Homo sapiens: one gene and its partners. The protein of the gene in region 3 interacts with the protein of the main gene of each other region in a biochemical or structural test. Each region holds a gene or a part of one and is shown on either strand. Other genes may lie near its edges.

The links. The genes of interacting proteins can lie anywhere in the genome.
Region 1: the proteins of RPL23 (region 3) and GRWD1 form a complex in vitro, tested with the Homo sapiens proteins (one study listed by BioGRID).
Region 2: the proteins of RPL23 (region 3) and NAP1L1 form a complex in vitro, tested with the Homo sapiens proteins (one study listed by BioGRID).

What each region holds. Positions count from the first base shown.
Region 1 is NC_000019.10:48,448,979-48,456,012, reverse strand, and holds part of GRWD1 (glutamate-rich WD repeat-containing protein 1), read right to left. Parts: intron 5,701-7,034; coding exon 5,487-5,700; intron 5,348-5,486; coding exon 5,205-5,347; intron 4,980-5,204; coding exon 4,782-4,979; intron 3,306-4,781; coding exon 2,988-3,305; 3' UTR 1-2,987. UniProt on the Homo sapiens protein: Histone binding-protein that regulates chromatin dynamics and minichromosome maintenance (MCM) loading at replication origins, possibly by promoting chromatin openness.
Region 2 is NC_000012.12:76,036,055-76,039,689, forward strand, and holds the end of NAP1L1 (nucleosome assembly protein 1-like 1), read right to left. Parts: 3' UTR 531-3,635; downstream 1-530. UniProt on the Homo sapiens protein: Histone chaperone that plays a role in the nuclear import of H2A-H2B and nucleosome assembly.
Region 3 is NC_000017.11:38,850,693-38,858,445, forward strand, and holds the start of RPL23 (large ribosomal subunit protein uL14), read right to left. Parts: upstream 3,030-7,753; 5' UTR 3,019-3,029; coding exon 3,006-3,018; intron 2,414-3,005; coding exon 2,330-2,413; intron 2,304-2,329; exon of another isoform or gene 2,171-2,303; intron 2,041-2,170; coding exon 1,912-2,040; intron 967-1,911; exon of another isoform or gene 832-966; intron 1-831.

The sequences.
Region 1 (7,034 bases), on a different chromosome or scaffold from region 3:
CCACCCAGGCCTCCTGGGAGCCACGGCCCGAGTGACAAACCACAGTCTTCTCAAGAGCACTCTGGTTTCAAACACACCTGGTATGTACGAGGCCTCGTGATGAGCTCCCGACATGCCCACAGCCCCCACTGGACTCTCAGACCCCACTGCTCACCTTGGCCGCTCAGGATGCCGGGAGGTGAAGATCATCACCCCCTTTCACAGTTGGGGAACAGGCTCAGGGAACGCCATGAGCTGGCCAGGCCCCCGCAGTGCCAGGGGGAATGCTGGTTGGGTCCTAAGCCTTTCTTTCCTTCCCAGAGTTCTGCCCTCGAAATCCTCCAGTCCCACCTCAGCCCCGTGAGGCAGACCCGTTGTCTACTTCCCAAAGCCAACGGGAACCTTCACCAGGGGGCCATCTGCGGCCAACATGGCCCAGCTCCCAGGCTGGCTGCGACTCAGGCTCAGGGCACCCCCCTCCCCTAGCAAAAGCAGGGCGGGAGGGAAAGGGATCCTCCACCTGACCTGCGAGAGCAGCTTAATGTTTCCATATAAAGGAGATACAGGGCTTAAGGTGCTTCAACTTCGTGTCAAAGTCACTGTCTAATCTGAGGCCAAGAAGCCCCGCCCCCAGGCCCCACCCTCACCCTCCCAAATCAACACTCTCACTCTTCCGAAACCAGGGGTGTTCCCCACCACTCCCCACCTACTGGTGGGGGCTGGACAGCAGGTTGGAAAGCAGAGACTACAGAAAGACAAAGAGATGCAGAGATAGGCAGGAGGAGGGGTGTTGAGAGGGTGCCCCAAGAAAAAGTACAGGGACCAAGCAGGACAGGGACCCTGAGAGAGAGGGGGACAGAGACCCAGAGAGGGCAGCAGGAAAGGGACATTGATCCAGAGAGAAAGGGACAGAGACCTTGAGAGAGGACAGAGACCCAGAGAGAGGGGAACAGAGACCTTGAGAGGATAGAGACTCAGAGACAGAGGGGGACAGAGACCCAGAGAGAGGGGGGGACAGAGACCTAGATGGAGGGGGACAGAGAAGATAGAGGCGGACAGGGCAATTGGGAAAACGAAAAGGAGAAAAGAAATGTTTTAAGAAATGGCGACATGGGGAGATGAAATTGTGAAGACAGAGAGAGGCAGAGAGAGATGGGAGAGACAGAGATGGGGGAGAGAGACAGAGACAGAGACAGACAGACTGAGAGGGTTTCTCTGAAAGGATGGAAGCCAGTGAGAAAATGCATAAAATGGGGATGGGGTGAGAGTTGGAGGCACTGAACCTGGGGGTGGATTCTCCTGGCGCTGAGCCTGTCACTGATGGGAAGACAAGGCCTTCTTGAAGGGGACAAGCTGAGGACAGGGATGCTGGGGCAGGGGTGGATGGGGGCGACGCAGCAGAGCAGGAGGGGATGGCTCAGCGGTGCCTTGCATGGAGGCACGTACCTGTTGGGGCGGCCCACCCCCATGCCCTCCGCTGGGGGCTCCTCGGCTAGGGCTGAGGGGAAGCCTCTGTGGGTGCTGAGGGGCTGTAGTCTGTCCTTGGTCCCAGGGGCCGTGTGACGGGCACCCGACCTCGGAGTCCACAGATGGATCAGAGGCTGGATGGAGGGGGGCCGGGGGTGGGGCTAGCTCAGAGCCGCAGAGGGGGAGCCAGGGAGGCCAGCCAGGCAGAGCGGCTGGGCCACAGCCCAGGCAGGCTGGACAGGAGACAGCGGCGGAGGAGCGAGACAGCGACTAGGGGGCAGGGAGACTGGCAGTGGGGGACGGGAGACTCTGAAAGAGGGGGACACAGAGAAGAAAGAAAGAAACGTGATAAAGGGGAGATGGACGGAGGGAGAAATGGGGGGTCCAGAGTTCCCTGAGATGAAGCCTTCATAAGCTGGTGGGGGTCAGGGATGAGGCCCCTTTCACTAAGCCAGAGTGAGTTCCAGATGGAAGGACACTTAGAGAAGGCAGAACGCGGCGGCACCCAGTGGGCGGAAGGTTGGGTTGCACTGGACTCCCAGTGGCCTCCCCCAGCCTAGCGGCCTGGGGGCAGCTGGTGCCAAATTCCTCCCCACCCCCAAACTCCCCCCACACCCCGTTTCCTCATAGGGCTGTGGCCAAAGGACCAGAGTCTCAAATACACCTCAGGCCTCTTCCTGGTCCTTTATTGCTGCTCAGGAGCCCTGACCTTCCTCCCGACACAGCACCAGCCTCTAAAGTCAGGGAGGAGGGGAGAGGGTCGCATGTAGCCCCCACACGGAGAAATCCTGGCCAAACCCAGCTGGCAGGAAGACAACGGGCAGAAGCAAATTGTGTTGGAGGAACCCACACCTCCAATTTGGTGCAGCCACTGTATATCCCCCGAGTCCCCTGCTGGGAACCAGCAGCCAAAACTGGGTCCTGAGCCGGACGCGGTGGCTCACGCCTGTAATCCCAACCCAGCACTCTGGGAGGCCGGGGCGGACAGATCACTTGAGATCAAGAATTTGAGACCAGCCTGGCCAACATGGTGAAACCCCGTCTCTACTAAAAATACAAAAATTAACGGGGTGTGGTGGCACATGCCTGTAATCCCAGCTACCTGGGAGACTGAGCTGAGAGAATCACTTTAACCCAGGAGGCGGAGGTTGCAGTGAGCCAAGATCGTGCTACTGCACTCCAGCCTGGGCGACAGACCAAGACTCCGTCTCAAACAAACAAACAAAAAACTGGGTTCTGGGGACACAGGTCAAATGGGTCACAGCTGACAGGAAGGAATCCGACACACAGGCCACACCAGGCCACACAAGTCTCTGGGTGGGAGTGGTCTTACAGAGCCCTGGTTAAACCGAGTTCTTTGGTGAGAGGGGTCACTGGATCAGAGCCAGGCCTTCTAGAGAACAATACGTCAAACAGAATCCATCACGGCAGCCCACAGGCCGGCCAGTCTCAGTCAACAGACCTGAATGAACCCCTTCCAGGGGAGCCCAATTCGACTTCAGTTTCCAAGCAGGAAGCAAGATCAGAGCCAGTGGGACGCCTCAGACGCTGATGGTGCGGAAGATGGTGAAGCCTGACAGCGCCGTGCTGACCAGGAGCCCTGGGCACTGCGGGTGCCAGTGCAGCTCCTTCAGCTCGGTCTCGCCCTGGTGCACGAACAGCAGCTGCTGCGGGAGGTCGGCCAGTCCGGGGTCGGCCTCCACGTCGCCCGCCTCAGGGTCCCGCTCCACTGCCAGGTCCCACTGTGTGATCTGGTGGTCTGCACCCGAGGCTGCAAAGACCCCGCTGTCCTGGGGGTGCCACTCGACGGAGGTCACGGGGGCCACGTGCTGCTTGAAGGTGGCCACTGGGGAACCAGACTAGAGGGAGAGGATGGGAGGAACGGGCTCTGAATGCCTCAGCCTGACTCTGGGGAGGACCCAGGCAGAAGCCCCAACCCTTCTCCAGCCTCAGGGTTCAGCCAGGGCCCCACCCCTTAAGCCCTCACAAGCCCAGAGTCCAGGAAAGGGACACAGGGTAATTCTGGCTGCTAAGAAGGCTGACCAGCCCAGGGGTTGCTGGGAACTGTGATTCACCTGCAAAGAAGCCCCTCCCAGCTCAGGTAGCAAAACCCCCGCCCCTGCTCTTCCCTCTGCCTGCCTGTTTTCTTCCTTGTAAAAGGAGGGCATGGGCTGGGTGCGGTGGCTCACGACTGTAATCTCAGCACCTTGGGAGGCCAAGGCGGGTGGATCACCCGAGGTCAGGAGTTGGAGACCAGCCTGAACAACATGGTGAAACCCCATCTCTACTAAAAATACAAAATTAGCCGGGCTGGTGTCACATGCCTGTAATCCCAGTTACTCAGGAGGCTGAGGCAGGAGAATCGCTTGAACCCAGGAGCGGGAGGTTGCAGTGAGCCGAGATTGCGCCACTGCACTCCAGCCTGGGAAACAAGAGCAAAACTCCATCGCAAAAAAAAAGAAAAAAAAAAAAAAAAAGAAAAAAAGGAGGGCATGGCTCTCCCAGAGCTCTCCCAGCAGATTCTACAAAGGCCTCAAAGGAGGCAGAAACACAATCCCCGGAAGCCGACCCAAAGAAAGACTAAGAATGACAGCACTTTCACTACAGCAAAGGCCCCGCTCAATTGGCGTCTCTCTCATTAGGAGAGGCTGCTCTGAAGTTCCAATGGTCAACAAGCTGGGCCCTGTGTGACCTGGTGGGCCTGGGAGGCTGGAATCCGTCTCCAGCCTCCTCCCCAGGGCTGACGCTATAGAAACGATCAAACTGGAGGAGAAAAAGGATGACATCATGGCAGCCCGGGAAGGCAGAGCCACACAAAGCTGCGGCTTTGTCCAGAGGGATGCCGGACGCTGCAACTTCTCCTGCACAGGGACCCTCCCAGCTCCACAATGTCAACCTCTAGCTTGGCTGTCATGTCACAGCGGCTCCTGTCCTTTCTGTGCCTCAGTCTTCTCCTACAACGAGCAGGCTGGGCCCCGATTCTCAGTTGCATCTAGAAATCTACAACTCTCTGAAGCTCTCAGCACTGGCCGTACAGACACCTGTACTTCTGCCCACAGGCAGATGAGAGTCCTAGTCTCTGCTGCCCCAGCCCCTTCCATCTCTTGTCAGCTGTTCCCCTGGTAGAGTGAGTGACCCCAAGAGTGGAGACCCGCCACCCTTCCTCTTGCTGAGCCTCAGTTTCCTCCTCTGTACCCTGAAGAGGCAGGAGTCTAGTTCTAAGGGCTCTCCAGCTCTGGTTGTGTAAAACTATTCAAGGAGGAAAAATCCTACAAATCCCAGGGGCTGCTGGGAGCAAGCTTCTCTAGCCCCCAGGTGTCCGGCTGGGAAAATACCTTGAACTGCCGAAGGTCCCAGATCTTGAGGGCCCCATCATCCCCGCCACTGAGCAGGAAGGGCTCCCGGCGGCTCCAGCTGATGACATTGACGTCCCCATCATGGGCGGTGGCTGTGGTGAGCATGCAGGCCTTGCTGGGGGCTGCCCGGATGTCCCAGATGCGGATGGAGGCGTCAGCTGAGCAGGAGGCAAACACCTGGGGGAGGCGGAGTCTGAGTGGTCCCAATGCCCCCCAGCCCGCAGTGAAGCCCAAGCGCCAGCGGTGGGCTACTCTCTCTTTCACTGTTCCCCTTACTATGACTTGGCCTGGAAACTAAACCTCCGTCAGGCTCCCAGCCCTCTTTTCCCTCAGACCTAGGATTCTAGGTCCCTGGCCTAGAATCCATCAGAACTAAACGACCAGAACCCCACCCTCCCTCACCGTGTTCTCAGTCGGTGACCACTGCAGGTCCTCCACAGAGCGTGTGTGGCCCACGAATGGCCGCTGGTCCACGTGCCAGGAGCCGCCGTCCGTAGGTGTCCAGAGGTGGATGTTCTTTTGACAGTCACCGGTCAGCAGGCGACCTGGGGAAGGGAGTCAGGAAATGACCTCGCCCCACCTGGCCGCAGCTCGCTCCCCTCCTTGGAGTCTAAGCGCCCGGCCCCTTGTTGCAGACCCTGCTCCCCCGACCTCCCGGGACTCCTGAACACCCCAGGGACTCACCGGTCACCCGGGGGGACCAGTCAAGGGCAAAGCCCTCGCCCATGTGTCCAGCGAAGGAGAAGATGGGCTTCATTTGGGCCTGCTCATCCCGGAGGAAGGCTGCCAGGGCCTGGGGCTCCTCCACCACCTGCAGAAGCCGCCGCAGCGCAAACACCTCCACCTGGCCCTTCTCTGACCACACCCCAGCCACAGGCTCTTCACCCAGCCATGACACCTGCAGAAGAGCGGTGGGGGAAGGGTGATGTGAAGCGAGGGGAGAGGAGGATCAAGGCACTGACCCCACGCTCCCCATATCCCAGAGAACCAGAAGTGCGCTTCCTCAGATCTCCCAGGCCTGGGACTACAGCTCCTTGAAACCTCTGTGGGAAGAAAATCACAACCTGCAAAAACCAGCATGGTAACTGGGACAGCTCTCCACAGGGGGTGGGAGTGGGTGGGGGAGCTGAGGTGGGAGGATAGAGCCCCAGGATGCCTGGGAGTTGAGGCTGCAATTCCCACCAGCCCTTGGGAGGGTGTTCAGGCTCCTGGTCTCGGTAACCCTCTAAATGCTAGAAGGCCACAAGACTCAGTCCTCGGATCTCCTTGCCTCTGTGTTTGTTCACTAGGAGACCCAGTCCAGCCACGAGGTTTCCAATACCCCTAGCCCTGACCTCTCCCCTGGGCTCCAGACTCTTACTGCATTGACCGTTCAAACTTTTTTGTTTTTGAGACAGGGTCCCGCTCTGTTGCCCAGGACGGAGTGCAGTGATGCCATAATGGCTCACTGCAGCCTCAACCTCCTGGGCTCAAGTGATCCTCTCACCTCAGCCTCCCAAGTAGTTGGGACTATGGGTAAGCACCATCACATCTGGCTTTTAAAATTTTTTTGTAGAGACAGGGTCTCACTTTATTGCCCAGGCTGGTCTGGAACTCCTGGTCTCAAGCGATCCTTCTGCATCAGCTTTCCAAAGTGCTGGGATTACAGGCATCAGCCACTGTGCCAGCCTGACCATTCAAACTTGATACAACCAAAGCCAAGCTCCTAATTGCCACCTGCAACTGCTCTCTCTCCACCTCAGGCCCCAAAATTCAGAACTCATTCTTGGTCCTCATGCCCAGCACCTATGCTGACTACAGTAAAAATGCTCACTTCCAGGGCCAGGCGCGGTGGCTCGCACCTGTAATCCCAGCACTTTGGGAGGCCGAGGAGGGCAGACTGCCTGAGGTCAGGAGCGAGACCACCCTGGCCAACATGATGAAACCCCGCCTCTACTAAAAATGCAAAAATTAGTCGGGCGTGCTGGTGGGTGGCTGTAATCCCAGCTACTTAGGAGGCTGAGGCAGGAGAATCGCTTGAACCCAGGAGTCAGAGGTTGCAGTGAGCCGAGATCGCACCATTGCGCTCCGGCCTGGGCGACAAAAGCGAGACTCTGTCTCATCTAAAAAAAAAAGCTCACTTCCAACCCCCTTCTCATGATGTCTATTGCTGTCACACTACTACTGATGTCATCCTTCCCCTGAATACCGTAAGTCTCCCCACAGGATTCTTTCCTCCGACCCTTACCTCTC
Region 2 (3,635 bases), on a different chromosome or scaffold from region 3:
GCTATTCAAGAGGGCAAGGACCATTGTTTCTGATGTGTCCCAATCACCTAGAAAAAGTCTTGATACCAAGTAGATGCTCAACATAGGTAGAAATCTTGAATTGAATTAGAAGTCCATACCCATCATAAAAAGAATATCAATTTTTTCAAATGCTTTTGACAGATTTTTCATGATGCATCCTACTTTTTAAAACTTGAGATGTAAGGACTTGAAATTTGCCCTACAAACATATCTCTGGTATACTTTTTAAATGGATAACTACATGCTAGGCCTCTCTGAATCTTAAATGCTTTTATAGTCAGACATCTAAAATAAATCCCACAAACCTTTTCCCAAGCAACATGCAATTTAATATCATGAGAGGTGTTTATATAAACTAGTATCCTACTGTTTTCTAGTAAGAGTATTTAGAAGCATGAGAAACACAGTAATGGAACTGAGTTGGTAAGTTTCTTACTTGGCAGTTACATAGTCAAACACTTGACTAAAAGTCCATTAATCAATACTGGCTTAAAGACATGTAACAGAACTTGGAAAGTTATTAAGTGTTTAATTCATAATGATTACAAAATTCTGATCTGTAAACCAATTTGCAATATACAGTAGAAACTCATGACAATGATCATTATTAAAGATTTGGATAGACCAAAGGTCAAACATCTTTCAAGAAAAAGTTAAAGCCCAGTAAATTATGAACATGTCACGTTACCCTCATCAGGGTATAAAAGATAACCAAGGCTGGGCGCGGTGGCTCACGCCTGTAATCCCAACACTTTGGGAGGCTGAGGCAGGCGGATTGCCTGAGGTCAGGAGCTCGACACAAGTCTGGCCAACATGGTGAAACCCCGTCTCTACTAAAAATACAAAAAAAAAAAAAACCCACAGCGCCTGTAATCCCAGCTACTCGGGAGGCTGAGGCAGGAGAATTGCTTGAGCCAGGGAGGTGAAGGTTACAGTGAGCCAAGATCACGCCACTGCACTCCAGCCTGGGCAACAGAGCGAGAATCTGTCTCAAAATAAATAATTAAATAAATAAACAAATAGTCTCACAGAGTGCAGTTTAGACTTCTTAGCCTTATTTCATCTTTGAAGTACTATTCAGAAGAAATATTCTAGATTCTAGTTTCCAAAAGTCCTTGAGTTGAAAACGTTAAGTATTAACACAGAACTATCCAGACTTCTTAGGTGGGTGTCCAGAGCTGCCTTCCTTTTCGCCTTAGTAGTTGATGAACTGATGCCTCCTAGTGACCAATCTGTGTAACAGCTTAAAGCAAGTGCTTTATAATGAGTGCTTAGCGCTTTTTTTTAACTGTAGTACAAACACAATTGTGGATCCAAGCACCGTCCATCAGCTGTCTCCGTCCTTTCTGTTCTGCCAGCAGCCTAATTCAGTTCTCTCATCTAAGTTCTTGGGTGGCCCAATCACCTGATCCATACTCATACACATGGCCTTCAGTTTTACTCTTAAAACATGACAGAAAACTTCTATTCGCCTCCAATTGTATACATTCCAATTCCTTACCCTTGCATGACAAGCCCTCCACAGAATGGGTCCTACTTATTTTGACTCGTTCCACTCAACCTTGAGCGAGTGCCAGTCATACATCTCCTTGTCCTCGCAGCCTCCAATTTACCTTCCCAAATCCTCTGTAAACCTTTCATTCTTCAAAGCCCTATTCAAATCCCAGATTTCCTCTGGCTGAGTTAATTCCTTCCTAATCACTTCAAACTCTGATGAGTAGTTATCCAATTTTCACGTCTACTTCACTAAATATCCAAGATCCTGGATGAGTGTTTTCGCCATTGTACCTAACGGAGAGCTGATTGACAGCACTTAAACTGAGGGGAAATGACTAATGTTTTGTCTGGAAATGTATTGATATTATTCAAAATGGGCAAGCAGGCTATCTTATTGAGTATTAACAAGTAACCAGGAAGTCTGATTATTTGTAAACTTGTTATGGTAATATTAGCTTTGAAGTGACAAACGAAAATATGGAACTGGATGAAATGGAGCAGAGAGGAAGGTAATCCAATGAAGGAGGCTGAGAGAACCAGTATTATGTTGTCACAAAACTGCAATCACTCAAAAGTGTTGATATTCTGGCTCTGGGTCTCTGGGGTGACAAGATACCCCAGTAACTAAGAGTGGAAGCAATCCTCTGTCCCCACTGAAGAGCCCAAGAACACCTACCACCTTTCCTAAGTATGCTTCTACTCTGAAACCCGGTAAATGCAACCCGTTGTTTGCAACTCAAATATGTAACTGACAGTCACTTGGGCAAATACCTCCATTTAAGGAACTAAATTCCAAGGATATTTCCCTCTTTTGCTGTCATTTTTCCATTGCCACAAAACACACAGCCTGAGGACATAGGCTGTTCAATTTGATCACTATTGATCTCTGTAAGAAAAAAAAATCCAGTAATGGGCAAATACCTTTCTTAGGTGATAGAGGACATATAGCAGTGAGTGTAGACAATTCCTCCCAAAAACATGAGAATAAAGAAGGTGGTAGTGGTGTTACTTTAGAAGAACAACTCAGGCTTCAGAGAGGGTAAGTTTCATTACAGACAAGGTAATCTAAGAGTAAAAGGGATAAAAGAATTCTGTGGGGTAGCCAGACTCAGAAAGGTGGAATAACACTTTTACAAGAAGATAAAACCCAGGAAATGTTTATGGCAAGCTTGTATGTTGCCACTAAACCTACCAGAAAAAGAAATCCCATTAGAACCGCCCCCATCACAATAACTACCTAAGTAAATCATTGTTGAGTAACAATGAGCACCCCTTAAACATGTCAGAAACCAGAAAGTTTTTGTTTCTAATGAGATTTCATTTACACTTTTAAGTCATTGTCTCAACCTAATTTGTGCATGCATGGTTCTGAGAAAGGTTATCATGCAAAATGAAATAAAAAGCCTTGGGCAAAGCAGGACTCCAATCATAATTAATCCTTTTGGGCCGTATTTAAAGAAAATTACTTTTCTTAGCCCTGTTCACTTATTTCTAAAATGTAGTTATTTGCTTTATGTTCCAGGATATCCTTGATCAAATAATCCTTTTCTAAATCAACTTATTTCGACATATGTGGCCAATGTGGCTGTCATCCTAACCTCCCTTGGCATTCACACCCAGCTCTATTTTATTTACTATCCTACTTTTAGCACTGTGAGCATAAACCATAGGTTCTTCTTTTTACAGGAGAGGTTGGATGCCAGTAGCCTTTAGCCTCCTTCAGCCCATCCTGTACCTTGAACCTGGACATGATGTATAGAGCCCCAGCAACCACTTGATAATAAACCAACTTGCCAAAGACAAAAAGTAGAATGAAAGTCTGCCTGAGAACCATGAAGCTCCCATATCAGTCCCAGAGTCTGTCTAAGCCTAAGAGAAAAACCTATATAAGCCACATTGTATTGGGGCTGTGTTATACAACATTATAATAAATACAAACTCTTCAGGGCAGGGGAGAGAAAAAGGAAAGATTATCTGAATATTGTTTAAAATGAAATCTAGATTAACTCTGGTCTCTAAAATATTTCATCTCTGAAAGCTCTAGCCTAAAGAACATGCTTATTTAACCACTAGTTGTGTGACAGAAATATCTACAAGGCAGTGCAAAGTGTAGGGCC
Region 3 (7,753 bases):
AGGGTTTTGCCATGTTGGCAAGCCTGGCCTCCCAAAGTGCTGGGAGTATAGGGAGTAAAGGCATGAACCACGATCATCTATTCACATCTTAAAATCAAAGCTGCCAGTATTTTCTCACAAGTGTAAAACTCTCAGGACAACTATCCTTGCCTATGCCTTTTCCAACTTCACCTTACAGGTAGGTTATTAAGATCCCAGTATCACTGAATTGGGATGTAGAAATGGGACCTGGGACCCCCAACTCCTCCCAGTCCTGGCAATGAGCAGAGACCAAGCTATTCAGATTTACACTGGAAAACAGTTTGAATTCCTGGGCCCAAGCACCAGGCTTTGTTTTACTTTTAATGAACTGTTTTCTAGTGTCCTAAGTAACTTTTATACCCATCTGTACTAAAGTGAAAAAGACGCTTTTCCCAACTTTCAAAATGAAGTATCACTACACAGTGAAATATAATGCTTGTGAAGAACTATTGTAGAGTCAGACACACCTGGATTCACAATCTTCACTGATACTAGCATGGGGTCCTTACACAGAATTTTTATGACAGGAAGACTACACAAAAAATAGATAAGTCTAACCAAGTTAGTAATGGGACACACATGAGGTAGCCAATACTTACTGACTGACCCTCCTCTACTCATAAACCATTTAATCCTCACAAATTCTTCAAGTAGACCTGGTCCTTTTGCATATTTCTGTGCTTGTTATTTATTGATATTAAGTTCCAAGGGGAGGGGATGTATTCATTTAGCAGAAACAAGGACCAAAAAAGACATTAACAGAATTGGAAACTCACAACTAGTTTTAAAACTGAAGTGTTCGGAGCTCTGGTCTGTCCCACCACTGACTGAGACCAACAATCCACCCTCCTGCCATCTCATCTACAAAGTGAAGGCCATTTGCTCTGCTCTTCTCTGACAGCTCCCTGGGCCACCAATCAGACCCAGGAAGTGTTCTGAGAAGAGGAAAAAGCCCATGCAATTGCTGAATCACAATCACAGTGCTACCCAGCCCTCAAATGGATATTAATGGTGAACAAAAAACAATTTCTAACCCAAAGGCTAAAAATCTACTGGACAGCATCGTGGGGTGGATACAGGAATAGGAGTAACTGTAATACAGGGCTGACAAATCAACATCACATTTGTAAATCAAGGGATGGCCAGGAACTCTTTAGAAGAGCAAGACATCCCAGGGTAGAGACAGATTAGGCAGGCACAGGAAAAAAGTGCAAGCGCTGAAGTTAAAATGCACCAAACACCAGAAGTTCTAAAGCCAGACAGGACACAAGCTGCAAGTATTTTGAGGCCTCCCCCTTTAAATCATACACCTGACAGGAAAAATTTTGAGTGGGGAGCCTGAGATTAAGTAATGAGCAATTAGCCGGGTGTGGTGGTGCACACCTATGATCCCAGCTACTCGGGAGGCTGAGGCAGGACAATCTCTTGAGCCCGGGAGGTGGAGGTTGCAGTGAACAGATATGTGCCACTGCACTCCAGCCTGGGCAACAAGTGAGACTCCATCTCAAAAACAAATAATAAAATAAGCAACGGGCAGCTTGTTTTCGTTTTGTAATATATTTTTTTTTGAGAGCCCAGGAGGCGGAGGTTGCAGTGAGCCAAGATCGTGCCATTGCACTCCAGTATGGGCTGGGCGACAGAGAGAGACTCCATCTCAAAAAACAAAACAAAACAAAACAAAAACAACAACAAAAAAACAACTAAGGTATGGAAGTGACAAGATGATGGTCCCCCCTCCAACACAATATGAGCAAAAACTTAAGATACTTATCTCACACTGCCTCTCAATGGAAAACAAACTTGAGGCCTTGAAAACTGATCCATTTTCCAATAAAGGAAAGCGTCCCCCCACTACTCATCAGTATTAAGGTGGGCTCAGTGTTTACTCACCCTTTTTTCTGAGCTCTGGTTTGCCTTTCTTGACTGTGGCCATCACCATGTCACCCACACCAGCAGCGGGAAGTCTGTTCAGCCGTCCCTTGATCCCCTTCACGGAGATGATATACAGGTTTTTGGCTCCTACAAAAGAATGTAAATAAAAATAAAAAATGTTGAGGGCCATCAGGCCGTTCCATCAGTATAACATTTCCCAAACACTTCCAAAGCCCCTCCCTCCACTCACTGCCCAAGCAGTTAGTCCGCAAGAACGCCTTGTCACACCACCGATTGAAGCAAACAACACATGTTGCCACTTCACCCAAAAGCGATGTTTTCACTCTCCCCTTTCTTGACGGCTCAATAGGTCATTAGCCACAGGCCCATTGAGTGCTTTTAAAAGGGGGAGTATAGCAACGTGCAAAGACCTCACCTGTGTTGTCAGCACAATTGATTACAGCTCCTACCGGAAGACCCAAGGAAATCCGGAATTTCGCACCAGAGGACCCACCACGTCCTGTGGATATAAAGGGAAGGGAAACAGGATAAAGAGATCACAATCTAGACATGGTTCGGAGTTCCCCCTCATACTCAAGCTGTAATTCACCGCACATGCTTTGATAGACTGTACGCTATAGATTAGCTCGCTCGGATTTTACTTATGCCGTCCCCATGTGCCACCCGATTCTCACGGAAAGTAGCCTATTTCTTACTATTAACACTCTGACATCGAAATTAAGAAACCTAGACGACTCAACCCTTGCTCTAACTTTCGCAAAACGCAATTACTCCTGCAAGGCATAAAACCGCAGAGGTCGCGCAAACCAGGGCCTAATCCAGTCTAACTTCAACCCCATTACGATAGCCCTATTCGCGGAGCGATCTCGCGGTATCCAGACTACATTCACGTCGGGATCCTGCCATCTCAACTCTCCAGCACCCCACTGCCACTTTCGAGGGCCCTGGCAGTGCTCTCGCGGTGGCCTGGCTCTCTCTCTCCGGCCTGAAGGAGAGCAAAGCGCCCCAGCTGCCTAGGGCCACCGCTCCTGACGAATCCGCCAGCCACTGCACGACAGATGGTGGAGGATCCTCCAGAAACAAAACCTCACCTCGCTTCGACATCTTGAACGCCGGAAAAAAGAAAAAAGGAAGTCGATTCAAAGGACACTGGGATATGAACTTTAACGCCCCGCCCACCCTCCTCACGTGGCCGGAGCAAAAACCGGCCTCTTCCGCCTCTGGGCGCTGCCTTATTACGTAATAAGTTTACGACGTCGCTTTTAGCCCTCTCTGCGAAGTGGGAGTTGAGGTAGAAGCGCAAGAGATAGGAAGTATCTTCTCTACGAGCTTAAGAGTAGTTAGGGACATGGAAACAGTGATTTGTTAACTTGCTCACGACCTCTTTTGACCACTTAATAGTGCCAGGCACTTATCTGCACACTAGAGAATAGGAATTAAAACACGGTTTGTGCCGTGTGGGGGTTCCCCAAGGAACAAAGAAAGTGGGGGAGGGAGGGAGAACAAGCTCTAAACGGTTTCGTTGAATGTAATACAGTTGAGAAGTGCTGCAGATCATTCCATCTATGTGTTCTTGGTATCATACCATTCTGTATTTTACATATACAGTATTGCTCTATTTATTGACCCGTCCCCCCCAACACACACTCTTTTTTTCTTTTTTTGAGACCGAGTCTCACTCTGTCGCCCAGGCTGGAGTATAGTGGCGAGATCTCAGCTCACTGCAACCTCCGTCTTCCGGGTTCAAGCAATTCTCTGTCTCAGCCTCAGAGTACCTGAGACCACAGGCGCCCGCCACAACGCTGGGCTAATTTTTGTATTTTTAGTAGAGACGGGGTTTCGCCATGTTATTGGCCAGGCTGGTCTCGAACTTCTGATCTCAAGTGATCTGCCCGCCTTGGTCCCTCAAAGTGCTGGGATTACAGGCGTGAGCCCCCGCGCCAGGCCTAATTGCTCCTTTCACAGCTTCAGCCGCCCCTTATTCTCTGGGTTCTTTCCTTCCCACGATACATTAATTCACATACTTATTGAGCTCCTACTTTACAGCAGGTTCTGTCCAGGGCGTACAGCGGATTACATCAGAGAACAAAATAGATCAACATTCTTTTCCTTATGGAGCTTACATTCTGCTGGGGTGCAGGTGGAGGAGGATATTAGACACTAAACAAAAGATATAATAAGTAATTGCAGTATGTAGTATGTTAGATGGGGATATGTATTATAAAAATATAAATAGTATCGCTTCTCGGCCTTTTGGCCAAGATCAAGTGTAAAATATAAATAGTGGCCGGGCCTTGTGGCTCACGCTTGTAATCCCAGCACTTTGGGAGGCCGAGGCGGGTGGATCACGAGGTCAGGAGATCGAGACTAGCCTGGCCAACACAGGGAAACTCCGTCTCTACTAAAAATACAAAAATTAGCTGGGCGTGGTGGCGGGCGCCTGTAATCCCAGCTACTCCGGAGGCTGAGGCAGGAGAATCGCTTGAACCCAGAAGGCAGAGGCGGCAGTGAGCCGAGATCGCGCTACTGCACTCCAGCCTGGGCGACAGAGCTAGACTCCGTCTCAAAAATGTATATAGATAAATAGCTCTTTGAGGAAGACGCGGTCGTAGGTGTTGCGGATCGCTGATCCGCACGCTCCTGCTACTGACTCACCGCTGTTCGCCCTCGCCGAGGAACCAGTCGCTCAGGAAGCCGCGCAGCAGCCATGGCTTTTAAGGATACCGGAAAAACACCCAGGGAGGCGGAGGTGGCAATTCACGAATTCGAGTCACTCTAACGAGCCGCATCGTAAAATCCCTGGAGAAGGTGTGTGCTGACTTGATCAGAGGAGCAAAGGAAAATAATCTCAAAGTGAAAGGACCAGTTCGAATGCCTGCCAAGACTTTGAGAATCACTTCAAGAAAAACTTTGTGGTGAAGGTTCTAAGACATGGGATCATTTCCAGATGAGAATCCACAAGTGACTCATTGACTTGCACAGTCCTTCTGAGATTGTTAAGCAGATTACTTCCATCAGTATTGAGCCAGGAGTTGAGGTGGAAGTCACCATTGCAGATGCTTAAGTCAACTATTTTAATAAATTGATTACCAGTTTTTTTTTCTTTTTCTTTTCTTTCTTTTCTTTCTTTCTTTCTTTTTTTTTTTTGAGACGGAGTTTCGCTCTTGTTGCCCAGGCTGGAGTGCAGTGGCGCGATCTTGGCTCACCGCAACCTCCACGGCCGATATCTATCTATCTATCTCTATCTATCTCTCTCTCTCTCTCTATCTCTATAGAGATATATATCTATAGAGATAGATAGAGATATATCTATCTCTATGTATTTATCTATATTAAAAACAACTGGTAATCGGCCGGGCGCGCTGGCTCACGCCTGTAATCCCAGCACTTTGGGAGGCCAAGGCGGGCAGATCACCTGAGGTCAGGAGTTCGAGACCAACCTGGCCAAAATGGTGAAACCTCGTTTCTACAACAATACAAACATTAGCCAGGCGCAGTGGTTCACGCCTGTAATCCCAGCGCCTTGGGAGGCCGAGGCGGTCGGATCACCTGAGGTCGGGAGTTTGAGACCAGCCTGACGACCAACTTGGAGAAACCCCATCTCTACTAAAAATACAAAATTAGCTGGGCGTGGTGGCACATGCCTGTAATCCCAGCTACTCAGGAGGCTGAGGCAGGAGAATCTCTTGAAACCCGGGAGGTGGAGGTTTCAGTGAGCTGAGATTGCACCATTGCACTCCAGCCTGGGCAACAAGAGCGTTTGAAACTCTGTCTCAAAAAAAAAAAAACAAAACAAAACAAAAATGGGGCCAGGTGTGGTGGCTCATGCCTGTAATTCCATCACTTTGGGAGGCCAAGGTGGGTGTATTACTTGAGGTCAGGAGTCAGAGACCAGCTTGCCCTAAATAGCAAAACTCTGTCTCTACTAAAAATACAAAAATTAGCAAGGCATGGTGGCTCATGCCGGTAATTCTAGCACTTTGGGAGGCCGAGGCTGGTAGACTGCCTCAGCTCAGGAGCTGAAGACCCAGCCCAAGCAACATGGCGAAACCCTGTCTCTACTAAAAATACAAAAAATTAGCCAGGCGTGGTGCGTGCCTGCAGTCCCCAGCTACTCGGGAGGCTGAGGCACGAGAATCACTGGAACCCAGGAGGTGGAGGTTGCAGTGAGCCGAGATCGCGCCAGTGCACTCTAGCCTGGGTGACAGAGCAAGATTCCGTCTCAAAAAAAAAAAAAAAAAGATATTGACATGAAACCAGGCACAGTGGCTCACATCTATAATCCCGAAACAATTTGGGAGGTTGAAGCAGGAGGATCCCTTGAGCCCAGGAGTCTGAGACCTGCCTGGGCAACATAGGGAGAGTCCATCTCTACAAAACATTTAAAAATTAGCTGGTGGCGGCTGGGTACAGTGGCTCATGCCTGTAATCCCAGCACTTTGGGAGGCTGAGGCAGGCAGATCATCTGAGGTCAGAAATTTGAGACCAGCCTGCCCGTCATGGTGAAACCCCATCTCTACTAAAAATACAAAAATCAGCTGGGCATGGTGGTGGGCAACCTGTAATCCCAAGTACCCAGGAATCTGAGACAGGAGAATTGTTTGAAGCCGGGAGGCGGAGGTTGCAGTGAGCCCAGATTGCGCCACTGCACTCCAGCCTGAGCAACAGAGCGAGACTCTGTCTTAAAATAAAATAAAATAAAATAAGCTGGTGGCATGGGAATCTGAGGCAGGAGAATCACTTAAACCCAGGAATTGGGGACTGCAGTGAGCCGTGATTGCACCACTGCACTCCAACCTGGGCTACAGAGAGAAACCCTTTGTCATTTTCCAATAAAAAGCCCTAAGGCAGGGGTGTGACTGAACCGAATGAGCACCAGCAAGGAAGCCAGATGTGACTGGACAGGACGAGTAAAGAGCAAAGTAGTAAGAAATGCAGTCAGAAGTAATGGAACGGTGGCTCACACCTGTAATCCCAGCACTTTAGGAGGCCAAGGCAGGTGATAACCTGAGGTCAGGAGTTCAAGACCAGCCTGGCCAACATGGTGAAACCCTGTCTCTACAAAAATACAAAAATTAACCATGCATGATGGCAGGTGCCTGTAATCCCAGCTACTTGGTGGGTTGAGGTGGGAGAATCATGTGAACCTGGGAGGCAGAGGTTGCAGTGAGCCGAGATCACACCATTGCACTCCAGCCTAGGTGACAGAGCGAGAGTTCTGTCTCAAAAAAAGGAAGTCATGGAATGAAACCACTGTGGACTTTGGCATTGGCTGAGTGAAATGAGGAAACATTCTTTGATTTTAAGCAGAGGAGGGACATGATTTGACTAATGTGTCAGAAGGATCACTGTGGTTGAGTTGTTGAGACTACACTGTGGGAGAGGACACAGGGATAGAAGTAAGAAGATCCATTAGGAAGCTATTGCAGTAACCCAGGAGAGAAATGATGGTGGTTTGGACTAGAATGGTAGTAGTGGATGTAATGTAGTCAGATTCTGGATGTGTTTTGGAGGTAGAGCCAATAAAATGTGGGGTATGAAAGATAGGAATCAAAATGTCTCCAAGTCTTTAGGCCTGAGCAATTGGAAGATATCATTGCCGTCAACCAAGATGGAGAAGGCTATGGTTATAGGAGGAATAGTGTTCCTGGTTGGTACTACCACCAGTGTCTCAACCAAAAAACAGGGACACAATTAATTCTCTTCTCCCAGGCTCCTAGAAGTAGTCACCAAGGTCTATCAACTTGACTCTGTTTCCTAAATTTTTCTGCCCATGCCTTCCACGTTCTGCCTTTGTTTCAAAGCTATTGCATCGGCCTCTATATGGTCAGACCATAAT